2 linked regions of the Homo sapiens genome follow. The main gene of each other region encodes a partner of the protein of the gene in region 2 in a complex. Each region holds a gene or a part of one and is shown on either strand. Other genes may lie near its edges. A codon is read from its position in the direction of its gene.

The links.
Region 1: the proteins of ELANE (region 2) and SLPI are in contact, whole or in part, in a crystal structure (PDB 2Z7F), measured with the Homo sapiens proteins. Residues at the interface, in NP_001963.1 of Homo sapiens: His53 (codon at 9,805), Phe54 (codon at 9,808), Cys55 (codon at 9,811), His70 (codon at 9,856), Cys71 (codon at 9,859), Asn74 (codon at 9,868), Val75 (codon at 9,871), Pro111 (codon at 10,208), Val112 (codon at 10,211), Asn113 (codon at 10,214), Leu114 (codon at 10,217), Leu158, Ile165, Leu180, Arg182, Val197, Cys198, Phe199, Gly200, Asp201, Ser202, Ala216, Ser217, Phe218, Val219, Arg220, Gly221; in NP_003055.1 of Homo sapiens: Tyr93 (codon at 7,705), Gly94 (codon at 7,708), Gln95 (codon at 7,711), Cys96 (codon at 7,714), Leu97 (codon at 7,717), Met98 (codon at 7,720), Leu99 (codon at 7,723), Pro102 (codon at 7,732), Phe104 (codon at 7,738), Met121 (codon at 7,789), Cys122 (codon at 7,792).

The regions. Positions count from the first base shown.
Region 1 is NC_000020.11:45,249,181-45,260,823, reverse strand, and holds SLPI (antileukoproteinase precursor), read left to right. Parts: upstream 1-6,259; 5' UTR 6,260-6,280; coding exon 6,281-6,365; intron 6,366-7,090; coding exon 7,091-7,249; intron 7,250-7,672; coding exon 7,673-7,822; intron 7,823-8,404; coding exon 8,405-8,409; 3' UTR 8,410-8,585; downstream 8,586-11,643.
Region 2 is NC_000019.10:843,161-855,345, forward strand, and holds the start of ELANE (neutrophil elastase preproprotein), read left to right. Parts: upstream 1-9,142; 5' UTR 9,143-9,168; coding exon 9,169-9,235; intron 9,236-9,715; coding exon 9,716-9,872; intron 9,873-10,101; coding exon 10,102-10,243; intron 10,244-12,185. Other genes in the region: PRTN3 (myeloblastin precursor), read left to right, coding at 301-466, 733-874, 2,987-3,217, 4,639-4,809. UniProt on the Homo sapiens protein: Serine protease that modifies the functions of natural killer cells, monocytes and granulocytes. Inhibits C5a-dependent neutrophil enzyme release and chemotaxis. Promotes cleavage of GSDMB, thereby inhibiting pyroptosis. Promotes blood coagulation.

The sequences.
Region 1 (11,643 bases), on a different chromosome or scaffold from region 2:
CCAGTGTCCTGAGTCCAGTATCATCGTCATGCCTCTCTAGCTGACCACAGGGTCCCAGAGGCCAGAAGTGATGCTATCAAGTGTGAGTCTTTCATGGTCTTTCTGGCACTCTGCTCTGTTTGGGCCACAGAGGTGTCCTCATAGTGGTGCTCTCCACTGACCCCAGGCTTAGACACCAAACTCTCCCATAGTAATGATCAACCAGGCATCGTCTGCCATGTCCATCTAAGACCCTACCATCTCCTGATCTGCAACAGGAACGTTTCTCTGAGACTCACTTTTTCTCATCTGTAAACTGACTTGACATTAGTATCTACCAAGTTTTGTGTGACGCTTAAATGTAACAAAACATGCTAAACCAAAGGAGATGGATTCTAGTGATTTGGGGACATCTTTTCCCAAGCTGCTTATAGCTCTGTTCCACAGTTTAATAATCCAGTTTTTCTATTCCCGGTTTTCTTCCATGGGTAGTCATGATGGCAGTTTCTTAATGCCGAGCACTGTTTTTCTTTTTGTTTTACCAGGTCCCTAAAGCATTTCCTCATGACATACCACAGACTTTGTTTCTTTAACCTTAGGTTAACTGGATCCCTTCCTCTAGGGAGACAGACATGCAGTTTTTGAAGGAATAAAGTGCAGAGCCCTGATCTGTACACCAACCATCTCTTGCATGGTAATAAGTATGAAGACACCTGAGATCCACCGTTGTTGGTTAATTTCTCCTGCCAATTCTTTGATGGTGGATGTTTTTCACCCTTGCCCAGATTCTGCTTTACTGCCCTTCACCCATTCACTTGTGGGCCTAAAAGGACAGTTCATATTTCCAGATTTTATTAGGACTATGATGAGCAGTAGGGGAGGAAGTACAAACATTGCAGAATTCAAACTTTCTTGGGTGGGAAAATGATAAGGAGTGGCTAAGCCATCTGTTTCTCTGGAAGGTCTAGGGAGATCCAGTTGCCATGTCCACCACCTGTGGATGACACTTCCAGAGGTGATTTAAATGACCCCACCTCCCTTGCAGTCATCTCTTTCTCATCTACTCTTCCTGTCTCAGCTCGGGGTTTTTTTTTCCCCAATACTCTCCCCACCACACCTACTACATCTCCATACTCCCTGGCTCTGTGTCTCCATTCCCATTTGGTCATTATTGACGTTTTATGTATTTTGTTTAAGACAATATTTTAAGCTAAGTTATAAAGGCAACTATGAAAGTCAGAAAATTGGCTGAGGCTCTTGGGGAGAGCTGATGGCCTCAGAGGAAGCAGGATGAAGCTGTTTCTTAGAGTCACAGTTACCGTCTTGGGACAGGTAGAGGAACTGAGGCCCAGGGAAAGGTAGTTGCTGCCTTATTCACACAGGAATGAGCTGTGAAAACCTGGTTGTCTGCCAGATTCTGAAAGAGTTTTTTGTTCTGTGTTGTTTTTTGGTTTTGAGACTTGGAAACATAGTGAATTTTAGGTAAGAACACAGTGACTTTTAGTTAAGGGTGAAGCTGGCATCTGCTATCAGAATGGGGCGACCCGAAACACATTCTTCCTTAGACCTGAGCAACGGGGCTCCTTCCCTGCACCTCACACTTCAGGTCGCTCTGTGCCTTGGGGCGTCTTCCTCAAAATTGTCTATGTTCCCCTGGAGTGCCTGAAGCCAGCCAGGATCAATGGTGCCATGGGGCAGAGAATCCCAGCTTGGACTGAGAACTGCATGGGTTCTAGTCCAAGGGGGTGCTTCTCACTCTGTACTCCTTCCCCCATTGCTAGAATCTAGGGCAGTCATCCTACCACCTTGGATGGCTCCTGGCAGGAGCCTGTGGCTGCTCCTGTCTCTTCCTCAGGGCTTTCCAGGCCATCTCTGTGCAACTCCAAAGGGGCTTTTCAGTTGATGTCTTTTTTTTTTTCCTCTGATTGACCTATGCTCTCTCGGGTCAGTGTTGAGCCATAATGGATTAGGCAGAGACATTTCTTGTGCAAATGAGATGCTCCTCTCACTTCAACCCTGAGCCCCTCCAGGGCTGGCTACATAATTTACAAGACTCAATGCAAAGTGAAAATGTGGAGCTGCTTGTTCAAAAGCAGGAAAAAAAGTGTTAACGGTACTAAAATTAATTTTTTAACTTTCTTTGGCAGTTTCTCTCTAGATCTGCCATGGTGTTAAAAAAATTATTTACTGTTGCTCCTCCACAAGTATGTGGATACTCACAGGGAGAGTGCAGACTCCCAGAGGTGCGCAGGGTCCCTGTCCCGCTACTTGGTGTGTGCAGGACCCACCAGCTGCCAGGGTCCCCCTGTCACCAGCACCCTGGTAGTCAGGGACAAGCGGCCACACTAACAACATTTGAGACAGTAATTGGAAGCCAGTATTCAGAGAAGGCATAAAGGATGATGCAGCCTCACAAGTAATGATGTAACCAACTTTAATAAATGGCATTGGGAAGTGCAGAGGCAAGCAGGTTCCATCAGCCAGGGTTTTCCAGAGAAACAGAACCAATAGTTGATTATCTGGCTATCTATCTATCTATCTATCTATCTATCTATCTATATCTATCTATCTATCTATATCTATCTGTCAGTTAAGATCTGTCTATCTGTCTGTCTACCTACCTACCAATAGGCCCAATCAGGTCTATTTTGTCAAGAAATAAGACCATGTTTTGTCAAACATTTAATGGGACAGAGCCAGATGGGTCCAGACCCAAGGACTAAGCTATTTAGTTAAAGACTGACAGCTCCCTGTGCGCTTAATGTGTGCAGGGACACGCCGGTAATAAAAACAATGTGTAATGTACTGAGGGGACCAGACAGTTTGCTGAGTGCTTTCCAAATACTCCTCACAACAACTGTACGACTCCAGAGGCAGCAACACTCTCATTTTTCAGTGGAGGTAGCTGAAGTTCAAAGAGGTTCAGTGATTTGCTTCCAACCTGTAAGTCTGACTTTGAAGTTCAGGTTCTTAACAACCATGTGGTGTCGACTCCGTGGGCGTGCTCTTTTCTGTAGCCCTAGGCCTAGTGCAATACCTGACATGTGGTAAGAAATGTTAAACAACTTTTGTGTGAATGGTTTGTATAAATGAATGAAGGAATCTATAGGATTTAGGTAGAAGGCAATAAAGGGTGTGTGAAATAGATTTTTTTTTTTGAGACAGAGTGTCACTCTTGTAGCCCAGTGGCATGACCTCAGCTAACTGCAACTCTGCCTCCCAGGTTGAAGTGATTCTCCTGCTTCAGCCTCCTGAGTATTACAGGCACACACCACCATGCCCGGCTGATTTTTGTATTTTTAGTAGAGATGGGATTTCACCATGTTGGCCAGGCTGGTCTCAAACTCCTGACCTCAAGTGATCCACCCACCTCAGTCTCCCAAAGTTCTGGGATCACAGGAGTGAGCCACCACTCCCAGCCTTGAGATAGATTGAATGAGTCAGTCTCAGGTTAAGATTTGGTTAGGAGTGGAAGTGTCCTCCACCAGACAGGTTCTGGGGATCAGCATGTGAGTAACCTGTTTTAGAAAAGCTCAATCTTGTGTGTGTCGTTAATCCGCTATGCAGCTTTGGGCCTGGATCTTCTTCTAAGGGATTCAGTCTCTTTTATGCAAGCTGTGGGTTTGGTCTAGGGGTTAGCATTTTCTGTAAAGGACCAGACGATAAGTATTTTAGGCTGTGCAGTAAATATTTTAGGTCCCTGTTGCCATTGTAGTGGAAAGATAGCCTTAGACAATACATAAATTAATGGATGTGTGGCTATGTGCCAATAAAACTTTATGAAAACAGGTAACTAGGTGGATTTGGTCCAAGGACTGTAGTTTGCTGATCTAGAAAACCCTTGAAGTCCTCTTTTTAGTCTTAACATTCTATGATGTAAACATTTAGAACCAATTATGTCAAAGATAATAATGATTATATACTATTATCTTCTTATGACACCCATGGAAGACATTGCTAATTGGGCACAGGGCTCTTTTCTGATGAGAAAGGAGCTGGCTCTAATCAGTCAATCACAGATTGAGCAATCAGTCAATCACAGATTTAAAAAAAACTTAAGCTGTAGCATTTTCCTTTTAATTTTTTTTTTTTTTGAGACGGAGTCTCAGTTTGTTGCCTAGGCTAGAATGCAATGGTACAATCTCAGCTCACTGCAACCTCTACCTCCAGGGTTCAAGTGATTCTCCTGCCTCAGCCTCCTGAGTAGCTGGGATTACAGGTGTGTGCCACACTGCCTGGCTAATTTTTGTATTTTTAGTGGAGATAGGGTTTCACCATGTTGGCCAGGCTGCTCTTGAACTCCTGACCTCAAGTGATCCGCCCACCTTGGTTTCCCAAAGTGCTAGGATTACAGGCATAAGCCACCGTGCCCAGCCCCTTTTCATTCTTTAAGAAATAAATATTTAGAAAACTCCAGATAATTTCTTGAGTGTGGCACTGAGGAAAATAGGAACAAACAGAGAGAGAGAGAGAGAGAGAGAACAGGAACTCTGTGAGAGAAATCAAATTATCCCCTGGGTGGTGGAAGTGAGAACAAAAATCTTGACCTGAGAGTGTCATTACCCATTGGTGGAAATCATAGCCTCCATTTCTCTCTTACCTACCCTACTAAGTACTCCAACTAAGAGTGAATGCACCTGGCTCATAGTAGTTACCTTGTGCATATTAATTTTCTTCCTTTTCTTTTTCCACCAAAATTTGACTGATGATTGATTATGTCCAAGTCTTCTGATCCACCAAAATTCAAACCATGGAGTGACTTTTGTATAAAGGGATCTGCTGCCAGTTGCCTGTTTGGTTGTGGAATACTTAAATACTTCATGTGGGGCCATCGCTACTTGATAATGAGTGGGTCTTTCATGTCTGTGGAAAGTTCCACAAACCTTCACCTTAGGAATGAATGGGAGAATTCCAAGCATGAAGATAATGAGTCAAGAGCTTGGAGTTTGTAGCTAGATGAGCTTTGGTTGAATTTTATTTTATTTTATTTTTTTAAGACAGGGTATCGCTCTGTCCCCCAAGCTGGAATGCAGTGGCACAATCATGGCTCACTGCAGCCTCAAACTCCTGGGCTAAAGCGATCCTCCTGGCTCAGCCTCCCAAGTAGCTGGGACTACAGGCATACGTACGTCATCATGCCTGGCTAATTTTTTACATTTTTTTGTAGAGATGGGGTCTCAATATGTGGCCAGGGCTGGTCTCAAACTCCTACTCTCAAGGAATCCATACACCTCAGCCTCCTGGGCAGCTGAGACAGCAAGTGTGCGACCCTACACTCAGCTATGGGCTGAATTTTAGAGATAATGGTCGCTCTCTTTATAATTAGAAGCAACCTATGCAGACTGGGTAGCAAATAGAATGGGTTTAATTTTTTGCTGTCATGTGAGATCTGTAAGGGATTTTGGGGAATTTTAGGAAGCAATCCTCTAAGATCTCAAATTATCTCACAGCTAAATGTAGATTACAGTGACTGATGAGCTGCTTTCCCCCTTTATCTCAGATTCATTTCAATTCTCTTTAGTGGGAAGGGATACTATTCATTTGTTCTTTTCATTCAGAGTCCCTTCATGCCCTTAATTTCATAACCCTCTGAGAAGGGCTGACTTGTTAGTATCATTTCATTTCACAGCTGAGACAACTGAGCTCCAGAGAGATTTGTGGAGAGCGGAGCTCTTCTTCAGCTTTCATTTGTGAGTGCTTTTCCTGTGTCAGGCACAGAACAGGCACTGGGGATATAACGGTGTAAATATTTCAGGGAACTAAGTATCAGTTGGTTGAACGAGCTGAACTTTTGAGAAAGAAACTGCATTGAGTAATCAGCAGAGTTTCACAATGCCTGAGAGTCCAGTAATGTGAGAATCAGAATTAGCAATGTGAGAATAGAATGTATTGCACAAAGTCTCAGCAGGGAGTCTGTGTCTGGTTTTAGTTCCAGGTCCGGGTAGCACCTTTGCAATTGACCACTTCTTCCCTCTCTCCACCTATAAGGCTAATGGCCTGGGATCTTGTGATGTTTAGGGCTCAGATGGACACTGAGATGGCCTCTTTAATCAACCAACTTCCCAGGCCAATCTCTTCCCTTTCTTTTCTGATAGTTGCTGTGTTGGCCTCATAGCCTTACCTGGCATAGGAAAGATAAACAATCTCCTTGGTGTCAGGATTTCTGGTCTCTGGCTACGTTTCCTGCTTATGCAATAGTAGCTGGGAGAGGCCGAAAGAATTCTGGTGGGGCCACACCCACTGGTGAAAGAATAAATAGTGAGGTTTGGCATTGGCCATCAGAGTCACTCCTGCCTTCACCATGAAGTCCAGCGGCCTCTTCCCCTTCCTGGTGCTGCTTGCCCTGGGAACTCTGGCACCTTGGGCTGTGGAAGGCTCTGGAAAGTGTAAGTTGGAGTCACTCTGGTCTAATCTGGGCTGCAGGGTCAGAGGTGGGGTCTCCTTGTGGTGTGGGTGTGTCCCCTTCTGTAGGCTCTGATCCCTCAGCTTAGTTTCGGGAGACCTCCCTGAGGGTGGAATACATGTCTGGCTGAGCTCCAAGGTTTGTGTGACAGTTTGAGCTTCTGGAAATGCTTCCTCTATGCAGCCATGCTGTCAGCCCAGGTCCCACTCTCTCTCTCTCTCTCTCTCTCTCTCTCTCTCTCTCATACTCCGCCTTCTTCTTCACCTGTCTGCGACTCTCAAATCATTAGTTTCTGACTCTGCTTCCTTGTGTCTTTGCTTCTGCTATTTTGTCTCTGTGCTTCTGCCTTGGGCTTTAGCTCTCAACTTCTCTCACACTGGTTCTATTTATCTTTGTTTACCTCTCTCCATCTCCATCACTCCCAGCCTTCCTCTCTGCCTTTGTGTAGCCTTGTTTTGCTCTTGGGTGGGAGGTCTTGACTAGAAGCCTGCTGCCCTTTTCTTGGGTGTGAAACGTCCCCTGTCCATTTGTCTAATTTAATCAAGCCCATCAATACACCTGGAGATCAGGCAGGCATGACCCTTTGGGCTTTGTGGACAGCTACTGAGGTAAGGGTCTCTCCCCCTCAAAAGTGGTGCTTTGTTCAGGAGGCATGATGGGTCCTCAGTACCCAGCCTCCTCCTGACCTCTTGACTTTCTCTTCAAAAGCCTTCAAAGCTGGAGTCTGTCCTCCTAAGAAATCTGCCCAGTGCCTTAGATACAAGAAACCTGAGTGCCAGAGTGACTGGCAGTGTCCAGGGAAGAAGAGATGTTGTCCTGACACTTGTGGCATCAAATGCCTGGATCCTGTTGACACCCCAAACCCAAGTAAGCAGGTCGGGGAACTGGGTAGAGAGGAGTGAGCCTGGGGACACAGCATTAGAGGGATGGAACTGGGTGATGGGTCCTGCCAGGCCTCCTTGTCAATCCGTCAGTGAGTCACACTGCCCTAAGCAGGAAGGTAGCCAGCAGCTGGTGAAGCAGCGGGCATTTAGATAGCCAGGTAGTTGGAAGCCTCCCACCTAGTCAGCACTGGGTGGCTGGCCACCTGCATCAATGGGGGGCCTGAAGTTCTAGGAGAGCCAGGTGCTATGTTTGGGGGCCGCCTTAGGGAGAAGGTGGTGGTGATAGAGGTGGGGAGGGGATGATCCCCCCTGCTGAAGCTGGAGCAGGGGCTCACTCTAAAAAGTGGGGATGGGAGGGGTTGTATAAAGTACAAGGCCTCTGACCGGTAGCCTCACTCTCACCCAGCAAGGAGGAAGCCTGGGAAGTGCCCAGTGACTTATGGCCAATGTTTGATGCTTAACCCCCCCAATTTCTGTGAGATGGATGGCCAGTGCAAGCGTGACTTGAAGTGTTGCATGGGCATGTGTGGGAAATCCTGCGTTTCCCCTGTGAAAGGTAAGCAGGGGATGAGGGCACACTGAGCTCCCTCCAGCCCTCTCAGCCTCAACCCTCTGGAGGCCCAGGCATATGGGCAGGGGGACTCCTGAACCCTACTCCAAGCACAGCCTCTGTCTGACTCCCTTGTCCTTCAAGAGAACTGTTCTCCAGGTCTCAGGGCCAGGATTTCCATAGGATCGCCTGTGGCTTTGATTCTATTCTAGTGTCTCTGGGTGGGGGTCCTGGGCAAGTGTCTTTCTGAGTCTCAGTTTCTTTATCGGTAAAATGTACATAATGAGATTGAAAGTGCTCTGCAAAGCACTATGTGCACTAAGAATTTATTATTCAGGTTGTTTCCATCATGTTTTCTGAGGTGAAATCACAAAGGATCAGTGGAGTTTGAGGATTATCTAGTTCAATGCTTTGAGTTTAGAGTTTTACGGTGAAAATGAGACTTGTCTCCTGACACTAAGTCTCTCTCAACTATAGCGCTATCTTGCTATTTTCTCTATCTCAGAAGGATCCTTGGGCAGGAGGAAGGATGTGGATATGATTTGGCTGGTTTCTATGCTGAAGCTCTTATCTGATTTTCTCTCACAGCTTGATTCCTGCCATATGGAGGAGGCTCTGGAGTCCTGCTCTGTGTGGTCCAGGTCCTTTCCACCCTGAGACTTGGCTCCACCACTGATATCCTCCTTTGGGGAAAGGCTTGGCACACAGCAGGCTTTCAAGAAGTGCCAGTTGATCAATGAATAAATAAACGAGCCTATTTCTCTTTGCACATCCTGCTTCTGTGATTCGTTGGGGGTATGAGTGGGGTGGGAAGCTGTGAGGGAAGATCTAGATATGAGGCCTCCTTCCTATGAATACGTAGTGGGAGGAAGAGGCTTAGGGACTGGGGGAACTTGAATTTATATCATGAGTGTGAAAGTGCTGACTCTGTGATTTGGGACAAGTGATTTTATCTCCTAAATTTCAATGGGATTAGGGATGTACAATAACATGAAGAATCAGAAACCTCAATTTTACTGCCTCTGGCAGGATTGTCAACTGCAGGTGAAAAACTTTCCTGAGACGAGTTTATGCATAAGAGATCCTGCCAACAGTTAAGCTATTTTAATCCAGGGGGTTTTCATCTAAAGCCATACAGAACTGTTGGGGCAGATTCCTGTGTTCACCTCTGTATGTGTTACGATATATATATTGGTTTTCACACTTGATATGTTGTAGGTCTGTCTGTTGTCTAATCCAACCAACACTCTCTGGACACTCAGAAAAATTAAGATTATCTGCAACTCACAGCAAATGGAGTCCTCAAAAAGACTAACCATGTTACGTCAGTGCCCACTCTCGATTATTTTGAAAGACTTGGAATGCCCCAAACCTCACTGGACCATTCTGCTACATACTTTTCTCACCTCCAGCAAGGGTTATTCCAGACTGAGGAACCTAGGCTCGGGCAAATACGCTACTAGGAGTGTGCCCCAAGTAGCACCTTGCAGGGGGAGGAGACCTAGCGTTGAAATGAGATAAACTCCTGGGTTACATACAGAACACATGCTGAAAAAGTGACAGTACTATTTTTTTTCTACTCTTCTTCTCCAATTTTTGGATAATGATAAACTTTTATAATCTTCCTTAGGTCAGGTTTTCTGGAAAACAGTCCCAGAGGCAAATGTTTGTGAACAGGGGGTTTGCTGGGGAGTGTCCTGGGGAGTGACACCTGTGACAGGGAAAAGAAAGCAGGGCTGACAGGCAAAAAAAGCAAAAATAGACAAGTGGGACTACCTCAAACTAAAAAGCTTGCAAAGCTAAAGACACAGCCACCACTACCAGTCTCTGCATCTTGATGGTAGTGGTCCCCTGGGCCCAGCTGCTTTCTCTTTATCTCTTGGTCTTGTGTCTTTTACAATCTCTTGTCTCTGCACACAGGGAGAACACCCACTAAGCCCTGTAGGGCTGTATAGAAATGCTACTGATTTTTGTATGTTGATGCTGTATCCTGCATATTTACTGAATTCATTGATTGGTTCTAAGAGTTTATTTGCAGAGTCTAAAGGTTCTTCTGTAGATATAATTATGTTATCTGCAAAGAGGGATAATTAGACTTCTTTTCCAATTTGAAAGGCTTTTATTTCTTTCTCTTTCCTAATTGCTCTATGACTTCTAATATTAAGTTGAATAAGAGCAGTGAGAGTTGGCATGCTTTTCTTGTTCCAGTTCAGTATGATGTTAGCTGTGGGTTTGTCTATATGGCCTTTATTGGGTTGAGATACTTTTCTTCTATACCTACTTTATTGAGAGTCCTTATCATGAAGGGATATTGAATTTTACCAAATGATTTTTCTGCATCTATTGAGATAATCATATGGACTTTTTGTCCTTCATTCTGTTGATGTGATGTATCACATTTATTTAAAACATTCATAAATGATTTATATATGTTGAAACACATTCTTCATCCCTGGAATAAATCCTACTTGATTATAGTGTATTATCTTTTTAATGTCTTGTTGGGTTCAGTTTGCTAGTATTTTATTGAGGATTTTTGTATCTATGTTCATAAGGAATATTGGCCTGTAGTTTTTTGGTGTGTGTGTGCATGTGTGTGTCCACGTGCCCTTATTTAGTTTTGGTATCAGGGTAATGTTGGACTCATAGAATGAGTTTGGGAGAATTTTCTCCTTTCTCCTCCTTAATTTTTTGGAATAGTTTAAAGAAGAACTGATGTTAACTCTTCTTTAAAAGTTTGGTAGAACTCAGCAGTGAAGTCTTCCATTCCTGGGATTTTGTTGTTGTTGTTAGGAAGCTTTTTATTACTGATTCAGTCTCATTACTCATTATTGAACTGCTCATGGTTTCTAAATTTTTTTCTGGTTCAATCTTTATAGGTTATACATTTCTAAGAATTTATCAGTTTCCTCTAGGTTTTCCAATTTGTTAGCTTATAGTTGCTCATAATAGTATCTAAGAATCCTTTGTATTTCTGTGTCACCAGTGGTAATGTCTGCTTTTTCATTTCTGATTTTATTTGAGTCTTCTCTCTTTTTTTCCCTAGGTGGTCTAGTTTATGGTTTGCCAGTTTTGTGTATCTTTTCAGAAATCCAACTTTTTGTTTTGTTGATCTTTTGTAATTTTTAGTCTCTCTCTTGTGTATTTCTGCTCTGATCTTTATTATTTCTTTCTTTCTACTAATTTTGGGTTTGGCTTGTTTGTGCTTTTCCAGTTCCTTGAGATGCATCATTAGGTTGTTTATTTGAAACCTTTCTAGTTTTTTAATGTAGACATTTATTGCTATAAACTCGCCTCTTAATACTGCTTTTGCTGGGTCTCATAGGTTTTGGTATGTTGTGTTTATATTTTTGATTATTTCAAGGAATTTTGAAATTGTATTCTTAATTTCTTTCTTCACCCATTATCATTCAGGTGCATGTTGTTTAATTTCCATGTATTTGTATACTTTTAAATGTTCCTATTGTTATTGCTTTCTAGTTTTATTCCATTATGGTCAGATAAAATACTTGGTATGATTTTGATTTGTTAAAATTCTTGAGACTTGTTTTGTACCCTATGGCTAACTTTTGACATTGTTACTTGTGCTGATGGAATACGTATTCTGCAGTTATTTGGTGAAATGTGCTGTAAATGTCTGTTAGGTCTGCTTAGTCTATGATGCAGTTTATATCTGATATTTCTTTGTTGATTTTCTGTTAAAATAATCTTTCCAATGCTGACAGTAGGGTGTTGAAGTCCCTAACTATTATTGTATTGGGGTCTATATATTCCTTAATATCTAATAATATTTACTTTATATATCTGGACGCTCCACTGTTGAGTGC
Region 2 (12,185 bases):
CTGCCTCGGCCTCCCAAAGTGTTGGGATTACAGGCGTGAGCCACTGCACCCAGCCACCTGGTCTGCGTCTTAAAAGCCTTCCTGACTCTCAGGACTGAAAGCTGCCACCAGGGCGCCTTTGGAAATCGTCGTAATTATAACCCCCCCGGCCTGGGCGCTGAGTCCTTCCCACCAGCCAGCAGGCACTGACCGGGTTGCAGATCGGGAGACGGAGGCTCGGAGAGGCCCAGGGGCTGCTCTGCCATCCCCCCTTTCCCTGCAGCCTGGGGGCTCCCTGACGCCTGGACTCCCCCCCTGCAGGTGCTGCCCGAGCTGCGGAGATCGTGGGCGGGCACGAGGCGCAGCCACACTCCCGGCCCTACATGGCCTCCCTGCAGATGCGGGGGAACCCGGGCAGCCACTTCTGCGGAGGCACCTTGATCCACCCCAGCTTCGTGCTGACGGCCGCGCACTGCCTGCGGGACATGTGAGCGGCCGCCTCCACACCCCTGTCCGCCCGCCCCGCCCTCTTCCTCCAGCCCTGGCCCGGCCACTGTCCCTCTGCCCGGGGAGGACCCAGCTAAGCCCCGTCTGCAGACCCCAGGCCCCGCGCGCGTGGGCAGTTCTGGGGGGAGGCCCGGGGCAGGGTCGCCGAGGGAGGGGTCTGGGGCTGCACCGCGGCCTCGGGAAGGGCCGGCTGTGGGCGGCGGCGAGTGTCCAGGGCGCCGAGGAGTGACCACCCCACCCCCGCAGACCCCAGCGCCTGGTGAACGTGGTGCTCGGAGCCCACAACGTGCGGACGCAGGAGCCCACCCAGCAGCACTTCTCGGTGGCTCAGGTGTTTCTGAACAACTACGACGCGGAGAACAAACTGAACGACGTTCTCCTCATCCAGGTGGGCGGGCAGGGCCGCGAGGGCTCGGAGGGGCACGGCCAGAGGGCTCCGGGACCCCCATTCCTGCAGCCAGCATTCATTGAGCACCCACTGTATACCGGGCCACGACCGAGGCCGCTGCAGCCTGGGTCCAGTGGCACTGGCCGGGGGAGACCGCTCCTTGGACACCAGGCCACTCCTCCTCCCCGCCTCTCCCCCGCCCGCGCCTCTCCCCCGCCCGCGCCTCTCCCCTGCGCGCCTCTCCCCCGCCCGCGCCTCTCCCCCGCCCGCGCCTCTCCCCCGCCCGCGCCTCTCCCTTGCCCGCCCCTCTCCCCTGCCCGCGCCTCTCCCCTGCATGCCTCTCCCTTGCCCGCCCCTCTCCCCTGCCCGCGCCTCTCCCCTGCGCGCCTCTCCCCTGCCCGCGCCTCTCCCCCGGCCGCTCCTCTCCCCCGCCCGCGCCTCTCCCCCGCCCGCGCCTCTCCCCTGCGCGCCTCTCCCCTGCCTGCCCCTCTCCCCTGCCTGCGCCTCCGCCCGGTGTGCTGTTCCCCCAGAAAGCCAGGTGCCCTCGCCTCCTCCGGCGCCTCCCCTGACCTCACTGGAAGTGGCGAGGACAGCCACAGCCCTCCCCGATTCACTGTTCTCCACTGAACCGCGTGCTCCTCTCATTCATGGGGCCCTCCTAGCCTCCTCCCACCCAGAAAGATCAGCTCCCCAGGGCAGAGGATTTTTGTCTGTGTTGTTCGTTATTGGACTCATGTGGCTTAGAACGGGACTGGGCATACAGGTGGTGCTCAGTAAGTGCTTGGGGCTGGGCACTGTGGCTCACGCCTGTACTCCCAGTACTTTGGGAGGCTGGGATGGGAGGATCACTTGAGGCCAGGAGTTTGGGAGCAGCCTGACCAACCTAGTGAGACCCCATCTCTATAAAAGACATTTTTTTTTTTTTTTTTTTTAGACAGAGTCTCACTCAGTCATCCAGGCTGGAGTGCAGTGGTGCAATCTCGGCTCACTGCCACCTCTGCCTTCCAGGTTCAAGTAATTCTCCTGCCTCAGCCTCCTGAGTAGCTGGGATTACAGGCATGCACCAACACGCTTGGCTAATTTTTGTATTTTTAGTAGAGACGGTGTTTTGCCACGTTGGCCAGGCTGGTCTCGAACTCCTGACCTCAAGTGATCTGCTCTCCTCAGCCTCCCAAAGTGCTGGGATTATAGGAGAGAGCCACCGCGTCCAGCCTACAAAAGAAAAATTTAAAAATCAACCGGGCATGGTAGCACACGCCAAGCCACTCATGAGCTGAGATGGGAGGATCACTTGAGCCCAGGAGGTTGAGGCTGCAGTGAGCTGTGATCATGCCACCACACTCCAGCCTCGGCGACAGAGCAAGACCCCATCTCAAAAAAAAAGTGCTTTGAAGATGAATGAATGGGCCAGGGGCGGTGGCTGTAATCCCAGCACTTTGGGAGGCCGAGGCGGGCGGATCGCCTGAGGTCAGGAGTTTGAGACCAGCCTGATCGATATGGCAAACCCCGTGTCTACTAAAAATACAAAAATTAGCTGGGCGTGACGGCAGGTGTCTGTAGTCCCAGCTACTTGGGAGGCTGAGGCAGCAGAATTGCTTGAACCCAGGAGGCAGAGGTTGCAGTGAGCCGAGATTGTGCCACTGCACTCTAGCCTGGGCAACAAGAGCGAAACTCCATCTCAAAAAAAAAAAAAAGAAAAGAAAGAAAGAAAGAAAACATGAATGAATGGCCGGGCACTATGGCTCACACTTGTAATCCCAGCACTTTCGGAGGCTGAGGAAGGCAGATCACTTGAGGTTGGGAGTTTGAGACCAGGCTGGCCACCTCACCCAATGGGATGGCTCCGGGAGGTTCCAGTGAGCCGAGATCACGCCACTGCATTCCAGCCTGGGTGGCAGAGCAAGACTCCATCTCAAAAGAAAGAAAGAAGGAAAGAAAATGAATGAATACAATAGTGACAAATGGGACAAAGGGGGTCGTGGGGCCCAGGCGGAGGGAGCGGCATCCGCGGCGTTTTGAGGTGGTGGGTGTGGTGGGTGTGGTGGGAGGGCGGCCCGGGCGGCCACCGTGACCTGGAAGCAGCGTCTCACCGCCGCCTGCCTTCTGCCCCAGCTGAGCAGCCCAGCCAACCTCAGTGCCTCCGTCGCCACAGTCCAGCTGCCACAGCAGGACCAGCCAGTGCCCCACGGCACCCAGTGCCTGGCCATGGGCTGGGGCCGCGTGGGTGCCCACGACCCCCCAGCCCAGGTCCTGCAGGAGCTCAATGTCACCGTGGTCACCTTCTTCTGCCGGCCACATAACATTTGCACTTTCGTCCCTCGCCGCAAGGCCGGCATCTGCTTCGTAAGTAACCGTGCCCCCACCCCGGGCACCGGGCTGCCATGAGGGGAGGAGGGCGGCGGCCAGGGTTCCACGCCACCTCTTAGCTGTGTGGCTTCATGCTGTGCCTCAGTCTCCCCACCTGGAAGGTGGGCACACCCAACACCCAACGGGCAGGCTCAGCGGGGTGGGGGCGCTCACATTGCACCTGGCTGCTTGGGTGGGTCTGGGGGTTCCCTGCCCCCCACTCCCCTCTAGGACCACAGGAAGGTGTGGGAGACCCATCCGCCCTCACCGGCGGCCCCTTCCAGAATCCAGGACTCCAGGTATCCAGCGGGAGGCCCATAAATGCCCAGTTCCTACGAAAGACCTCAGCCCCTCCCTGCTCACACTTTTTGTTTGTTTTTGAGACGGAGTGTCGCTCTGTTGTCCAGGCTGGAGTGCAGTGGTGAGATCTCAGCTCACTGCAACCTCCACCTCCCAGGTTCAAGGTATTCTCCTGCCTCAGCCTCCTGAGTAACTAGGTGCACAGGTACCTGCCACCGTGCCTGGCTAATTTTTTTGGTATTTTTAGTAGAGATGAGGTTTCTCCATGTTGACCAGGCTGGTCTTGAACTCCTGGCATCAAGTGATGCCTGGCTGGTGCTCACACATTTTAAAGAAAATTCCAGGCCAGCAGTGGTGGCTCACGCCTGTAATCTCAGCACTTTGGGAGGCCAAAGCGGAAGGATCTTTTGAGTCCAGGAGTTCAAGACCAGCCTGGGCAACATAGCAGGGTGGCATCTCTACAAATAATTTAAATATTAGCTGGGCATGGTGATGTGAGCCTGTAGGCCCAGCTACTCAGGAGGCTAAGGCAGGAGGATCACTTGAGCCTGGGGAGTTCGAGGTTGCAGTGAGCTATGATTGTGCCACTGCACTCCAGCCTGGAGAACAGAGCGAGACCCTGTCTCGAGAGAAAGACAGCCAGCTACTCGGGAGGCCGAGGCAGGAGAATCACTTGAACCCGGGAGGCAGAGGTTGCAGTGAGCCGAGATCACGGCACTGCACTCCAGCCTGGGTGACAGAGCGAGACTCTGTCGCAAACAAAACAAAAACAAAACAAAACAAAACAAAAGGAGAAAGAAAGAAAGAGATAGAGAGAGAAAGAAAGAAGAAAGAAAGAAAAAGAGAGAAAGAAAGAAAGAAAGAAAGAAAAAGAAAGAGAGAGAGAGAGAGAGAGAGAGAGAAAGAAAGAAAGAAAGTTCCATATTGGAAGCATTTTATTCTGAAACAGCTGTGGCTACCCCAGCCCCCTTCCTGGCTGCCTGGGGCCAGCCCGGGTGACTGGCTGTCCCCATCCTCCCGGGAGACTCAGGTGGCCCCTGATGGGTGACTGGCCGTCCCCATCCTCCAGGGAGACTCAGGTGGCCCCTGATGGGTGACTGGCCGTCCCTGTCCTCCAGGGAGACTCAGGTGGCCCCCTGATCTGTGATGGCATCATCCAAGGAATAGACTCCTTCGTGATCTGGGGATGTGCCACCCGCCTTTTCCCTGACTTCTTCACGCGGGTAGCCCTCTACGTGGACTGGATCCGTTCCACGCTGCGCCGTGTGGAGGCCAAGGGCCGCCCCTGAACCGCCCCTCCCACAGCGCTGGCCGGGACCCCGAGCCTGGCTCCAAACCCTCGAGGCGGATCTTTGGACAGAAGCAGCTCTTCCCCGAACACTGTGGCGTCCGGGACGGCCCCACCCGTCCCCCCACACTCCCTCCCACGGGGCTCCGGGAGACAGGCCGGCCCTGCACCTCACCCCACCGTGACCTCAATAAACGTTGAAACTCCCCCTGGCTCCTGTCTGTCCTTCCCATATAGGGAGGGGAGGGGGAACTGCCCACCGTGACCTCAATAAACGTTGAAACTCCCCCTGGCTCCTGTCTGTCCTTCCCATATAGGGAGGGAACCAGGGAGAGGTCCCCTGGGTTCAAGTCCCCGAGCCCCAAACTCAGGATGGGGGGAGTCGGAGCGGGGGATGGGGGCCCAGGTTGCAGGGGGTCTCTCTCCTGGATGCTCGTGGCTGTGGGTTCTAACCCGGCCCCATCAGGGTGGCCCTGGGCAGGTTGTTATTCATCTCCGTGCCTCAGTTTCCTCATCTGGAAAATGGACTCGCCCCAGACGTTTCCTAGAACTGTCCCTGCTGGCTCAGGGACTCCTTGAGGAAGGGGATGGGGATGGGGAAGCAGCCTGGGGGGCTTCCTGGAGGAGGTGGCAGTGCCAGAGCTGCATATCAAGGTGTGAACAGAAACATCCGAAGGGCTGCCAGGCAGGGGGCACAGTCCAGGCAGAGACCTGAGGGCTAGAGGCCAGGGGACGGGGAGGAGGGCAGGCAGGGGAGGGATGTGGGTGCAGGGGAGGGGTAATGGGGTTGGAGCGCTATTTCTCGTAGGAGGGGTAGGCAGGGCAGGAGTTCCCTGGTAGAAGCATGAGCAATGAACTGGGTGGGGGGGTGGCCAGAGGGGAGGTCCGAGGCGGGGAAGAGGTGGGACTCACAGTCCAGCTCAAAGACGGGCAAGTGGCCACTAGAAGGAGGCATTAGCCACAGAGAGGGGACGACCTGCTCCAGGACACGTGTAGAGAAGAAATGAAGCTCATTGCTGGTGTTTTTTTTTTCTTTTTAATATTTTTTTGAGACAGAGTCTCGCTCTGTCACCCAGGCTGGAGTGCAGTGGTGTGATCTCGGCTCACTGCAAGCTCCGCCACCCGGGTTGAAGCGATTCTCCTGCCTCAGCCTCCGGAGTAGCTGGGACTACAGGCACAGACCACCACGCCCAGTTAATTTTTATATTTTTAGTACAGACAGGGTTTCACCACGTTGTCCAGGCTGGTCTCGAACTCCTGACCTCAGGTGGTCCACCCGCCTCAGCTTCCCAAAGTGCTGGGTTTACAGGCGTGAGCCTACTTACTTATTTACAGCTGGCCTACTTATTTATTTTTGAGACAGGGTCTCACTCTGTCGCCCAGTCTGTAGTGCAGTGGTGCAATCTTGGCTTACCGCAGCCTCAACCTCCTGGGCTCAAGTGATCCTCCCACCTCAGCCTCCCGAGTAGCTGGGACTACAGGTGCCACCACACCCAGCTATTTTCTTAGTTTTTGTAGAGACGGGGTCTGGCTGTGTTGCCCAGGTGGGTCCTCAGTGACTCTTTACATATGAACACCTCCAGGTCACTGTAATCTTAGCAATCTCCTGGCCTCCCAGAAGACCCCACGTCCCCCTCGGAGTCTACACCCGCTGTGACCATAACACCCCTACCTTCCCTGCCACAGTTAATGGTGAACCAGCTCTCAAAGCAACACTTTCTTTTTTTTTTTTTTTTTTTTTTTTTTTTTGAGACGGAGTCTCGCTCTGTCGCCCAGGCTGGAGTGCAGTGGCATGATCTCGGCTCACTGCAACCTCCGCCTCCTAGGTTCAAGCAATTCTCCTGCCTCAGTCTCCCGAGTAGCCGGGATTACAGGCAGGTACCACCACGCCAGGCTAATTTTGTATTTTTGGTAGAGACGGGGTTTGTCCATGTTGGTCAGGCTGGAATTCCCAACCTCAGGTGATACACCCGCCTCAGCCTCCCAAAGTGTTGGGATTACAGGCCTGAGCCACCGCGCCCGGCCAGACAACACTTTCTTAGCTAAGAACTTTATGAACGTGAATTTATTTCATCCTCTTGACAGGTTTATGTGATGGATCCTACGATTATAATTTTACAGAGGAGGAAACTGAGTCACGGAGAGTTTATTTCAGGGGCCTGAAGTTACACAGTGGCCAAATGGCCACACCAGAACCAGGATATGAACCCAGCGTCGGCACACTTAATAATGACTGCACGTGAGAATGTAGTATACAGCTGGTGCTCAATAAATGCAGCTGACGCCAAGTCTGATCTCCGTGCTGGAGGCCAAGCCCCTTCCAAAGATACGGCGTCCCCCACCCCTGAAATCCCCCCACCCCCGACTTGAAACAGGGCTGTGTAGACAGTAGGCGCTTACTAAGTGCACTGTGGTGATGTTAAGGCAGCAAGGTGGGAACCCTGCCAAAAGGGGAGGGGAGAAGGCAGGGTAGTGTGTGTCTGATTAAGCTGAGGACAGGGCAGACATGGACTGAGCGCCTGCTGTGTGCCAGGCTCTGGGAGGGCAGGGCCATTGTCTCCCTAACCCGAGAGCCATGGGGGTCCACTTGCCTGTGGTCACGTCAGGACTCCAGCCTGGCCCAGGCTCTGCGTGTCCCCGGGTGCCCTCGCCCCGCCTATTCCTGGAGACAGGCCCGTTGGTTCCCTTCCCCTCCCCTTGTCCTGGAGCCAGGAGGACGTTGGTTCTTGCGACAGCCTTGGCCCGGCCGTTGCAGCTGGAACATCGTGGGGGAGATGGGAAGAGGAACGGGGCCCGGAGCCCGGGGCTGGGTCCTGGGAATCCCTTTCCCGCAGCTGGGACTCCAGCTCCCCTGCCAGTTCCTCCAGGCGGAAGCCCTCAGGCTTGGTCCTCACTCCAGCCTCCCGGCCTGGACAGGAATTCTCTCTCCAGCAGCCCTGCCAGATGCCCGCCCAGCCCCTGCCTCAGGCGGGGAGGGCTTCAGGGAAGCTCACCAAGGCAGAAGGGCGGGAGAGATTGTCAGAGCCCCAGCTGGTGTCCAGGGACTGACCGTGAGCCTGGGTGAAAGTGAGTTCCCCGTTGGAGGCAACAGACGAGGAGAGGATGGAAGGCCTGGCCCCCAAGAATGAGCCCTGAGGTTCAGGGAGCGGCTGGAGTGAGCCGGCCCCAGATCTCCGTCCAGCTGCGGGTCCCAGAGGCCTGGGTTACACTCGCAGCTCCTGGGGGAGGCCCTTGACGTGCCTCAGTTCCCAAACAGGAACCCTGGGAAGGACCAGAGAAGTGCCTATTGCGCAGTGAGTGCCCGACACAGCTGCATGTGGCCGGTATCACAGGGCCCTGGGTAAACTGAGGCAGGCGACACAGCTGCATGTGGCCGGTATCACAGGGCCCTGGGTAAACTGAGGCAGGCGACACAGCTGCATGTGGCCGGTATCACAGGGCCCTGGGTAAACTGAGGCAGGCGACACAGCTGCATGTGGCCGTATCACAGGGCCCTGGGTAAACTGAGGCAGGTGACACAGCTGCATGTGGCCGGTATCACGGGGCCCTGGATAAACAGAGGCAGGCGACACAGCTGCATGTGGCCGGTATCACGGGGCCCTGGGTAAACTGAGGCAGGCGAGGCCACCCCCATCAAGTCCCTCAGGTCTAGGTTTGGCAGGTTTGGCAAAAACACAGCAACGCTCGGTTAAATCTGAATTTCGGGTAAGTATATCCTGGGCCTCATTTGGAAGAGACTTAGATTAAAAAAAAAACGTCGAGACCAGCCCGGCCAACACGGTGAAACCCCGTCTCTACTAAAAATACAAAAAATTAGCCAGGCGCAGTGGCTCACGCCTGTGATCCCAGCACTCTGGGAGGCTGAGGCAGGCGGATCACCCGAGGTCAGATGTTCAAGACCAGCCTGGCCGACAGGGCGAAACACTGTCTCTACTACAAATACAAAAATTAGCCGGGAGTGGTGGCAGGTGCCTGTAATCTCAGCTATTCAGGAGGCTGAGGCAGGAGAATCACTTGAACCTGGGAGGCGGAGGTTGCCGTGAGCCGGGATCACGCCACCGCACTCCAGCCTGGGCGATAGAGCAAGACTCTGTCTCCAAAAAAATAAATTAAAAAACCCACATTGATTATCTGACATTTGAATGCGATTGTGCATCCTGAATTTTGTCTGGAGGCCCCACCCGAGCCAATCCAGCGTCTTGTCCCCCTTCTCCCCCTTTTCATCAACGCCCTGTGCCAGGGGAGAGGAAGTGGAGGGCGCTGGCCGGCCGTGGGGCAATGCAACGGCCTCCCAGCACAGGGCTATAAGAGGAGCCGGGCGGGCACGGAGGGGCAGAGACCCCGGAGCCCCAGCCCCACCATGACCCTCGGCCGCCGACTCGCGTGTCTTTTCCTCGCCTGTGTCCTGCCGGCCTTGCTGCTGGGGGGTGAGTTTTTGAGTCCAACCTCCCGCTGCTCCCTCTGTCCCGGGTTCTGTTCCCACCTCTCCATAGAGGGCCCCACCAGTGTGGGTCCCTCATCCTCACAGGGGAGGTGCCAGCTGGGACAAGGAGACCAGAAGAGACTGAGGTTCTGAGCGGTGAAGCCACCACCAGGAGCCCAGAGTTGGGGTTTGAAAACCGGGGAGGGGGGGGGGGTCGCAGGTCGCCCTCTGGGTTCAAGTCCAGGTCTGTCTGTGCCTTGGAGGGGCACCGTGGGGAGGTCCCTTTGCCTCTCCGTGCCTCAGTTTCCTCATCTGAACAACAGGGGTGCGAACGGCCCCGATCCCGTGGGTTCCCGGTGGGGGATCCCGTGGGTTCCCGGTGGGGGATCCCGTGGGTTCCTGGTGGGGGATCCAGAGGCCCCGTGGCCGGGAGGGGACAGGCTCCTTGGCAGGCACTCAGCACCCGCACCCGGTGTGTCCCCAGGCACCGCGCTGGCCTCGGAGATTGTGGGGGGCCGGCGAGCGCGGCCCCACGCGTGGCCCTTCATGGTGTCCCTGCAGCTGCGCGGAGGCCACTTCTGCGGCGCCACCCTGATTGCGCCCAACTTCGTCATGTCGGCCGCGCACTGCGTGGCGAATGTGTGAGTAGCCGGGAGTGTGCGCGCCCGGCTCGGACCCCGCGTCCCGGTCTGTGAGGTGGGTGGGGGGAGGCCGGGGCCGGGGCTGCTGGCGGGGGGGGGTCCGTCCAGGGCCCGCGGGGCCCCTCGAGCACCTTCGCCCTCAGGCCCGTCGCCGGATGGGGACGACAAGGCGCGGCTGAGCCCCGACCCCCGGGGCCGCCCCTGAGCCCCGCCTCTCCCTCCCCGGCAGAAACGTCCGCGCGGTGCGGGTGGTCCTGGGAGCCCATAACCTCTCGCGGCGGGAGCCCACCCGGCAGGTGTTCGCCGTGCAGCGCATCTTCGAAAACGGCTACGACCCCGTAAACTTGCTCAACGACATCGTGATTCTCCAGGTGCCGCCGGGCGGGGCGGGGGGCGCAGGGGCGGAGGCCAGAGGCCTGGGGAGGGTGGAGGCTGCGACGGAGGGGCGCGTCGGGGCCGCTCGTGGGGACCTGGGGTGGCATCGTGGGCTGGGTGGTCCCCTCTCCGCGCCTCGGTCTGCACCTCTGTGAAACGGGAAAATACCCGCCATGGGCCGTTGAGGGGTTAAATGAGATCCTGCAGGGAGGCCCCGATCTGCTGTCAATCAACAAACTTACTGAGAAGGGAGGCCCCGATCTGTTGTCAATCAACAAACTTACTGAGAAGGGAGGCCCCGATCTGTTGTCAATCAACAAACTTACTGAGAAGGGAGGCCCCGATCTGCTGTCAATCAACAAACTTACTGAGAAGGGAGGCCCCGATCTGTTGTCAATCAACAAACTTACTGAGAAGGGAGGCCCCGATCTGCTGTCAATCAACAAACTTACTGAGAAGGGAGGCCCCGATCTGTTGTCAATCAACAAACTTACTGAGAAGGGAGGCCCCGATCTGCTGTCAATCAACAAACTTACTGAGAAGGGAGGCCCCGATCTGTTGTCAATCAACAAACTTACTGAGAAGGGAGGCCCCGATCTGCTGTCAATCAACAAACTTACTGAGATTCTTTGTGTCTCTCCATTCACCAGTCCTGTGGCCCAGGGCAGGGGCCGCCTCTGTCTTTGGGAAAAGGGGCAAAAGTCCCCACCTTTCCACCCCTGTCCGCGGCTTGCAGTTCTGGTTATTTCCTGGGCGCCGGGCCCCGTGGCTCAGGCCTGTCATCCCAGCACTTTGGGAGGCTGAGGCGGGTGGATCACGAGGTCAGGTGTTCGAGACCAGCCTGAGCAACATAGTGAAACCCCGTCTCTACTAAAATACAAAAAAAAAAAATTAGCCGAGTGTGGTTGTGGGTGCCTGTAATGCCAACTACTCAGGAGGCTGAGGAAGGAGAATCGCTTGAACCCCGGAGGCGGAGATTGCAGTGAGCTGAGATCACACCACTGCACTCCAGCCTGGGTCTCAAAAAAAAAAAAAAAGATTCCTCCCTGGGAAGGGTTAGAGGGAGAGTTTCCTTGTCACTAAGTTTTCTCATAGCTCTCACCCAGTGCAGTGGCGCGATCGCAGCTCACTACAGCCTCCATCTCCTGGGCTCAAGCCACCCTCTCAGCTTGGAATGGGGGGTAGCTGGAACCACAGGTGCCACCACGTGGGTCCACCACGTCTGGCTAATATATATATATACACACACACATACATATATTATAAATAATAAATATATATTTTATTTAAATAAAATATATAATATTTATAATTATTTTATAATTATAATAATATTTATATAATTATAAATATCATTTATAATTATAATATTTATTATTTTATAAAATAATAAATATAAAATATATAAAAATATTTTTATAAAATAATAAAAATATATATATACACACATATATATATATTTTTTGAGACAAGTCTCGCTCTGTCGCCCAGGCTGGAGCGCAGTGGCACAATCTCAGCTCACTGCAACCTCCGCCTCCCAGGTTCAAGCGATTCTCCTGCCTCAGCCTCCCAGGTAGCTGGGACTACAGGCGCCCGCCACCACGCCTGGCTAATTTTTGGTATTGTTAGTAGAGACGGGGTTTAACCATGTTAGCCAGGATGGTCTTGATCTCCTGACCTTTTGATTGGCCCACCTCAGCCTCCCAAAATGCTGGGATTATAGGCGTGAGCCACCGCACCTGGCAATTTTTTTTTATTATTTTTGTAGACATGGGGCTTTGCCACATTGCCCAGGCTGGTCTTGAATGCCTGGCCTCAAGTGATCCTCCTGCCTCGCCCTCCCAAAGTGCTGGGCTTACAAGCATGAGCCACCGCGCCCGGCTGTAGTTTTTTTGTTAACTGAGCACCTACTGCTTCCTGCACTCAAGCCACATCCAG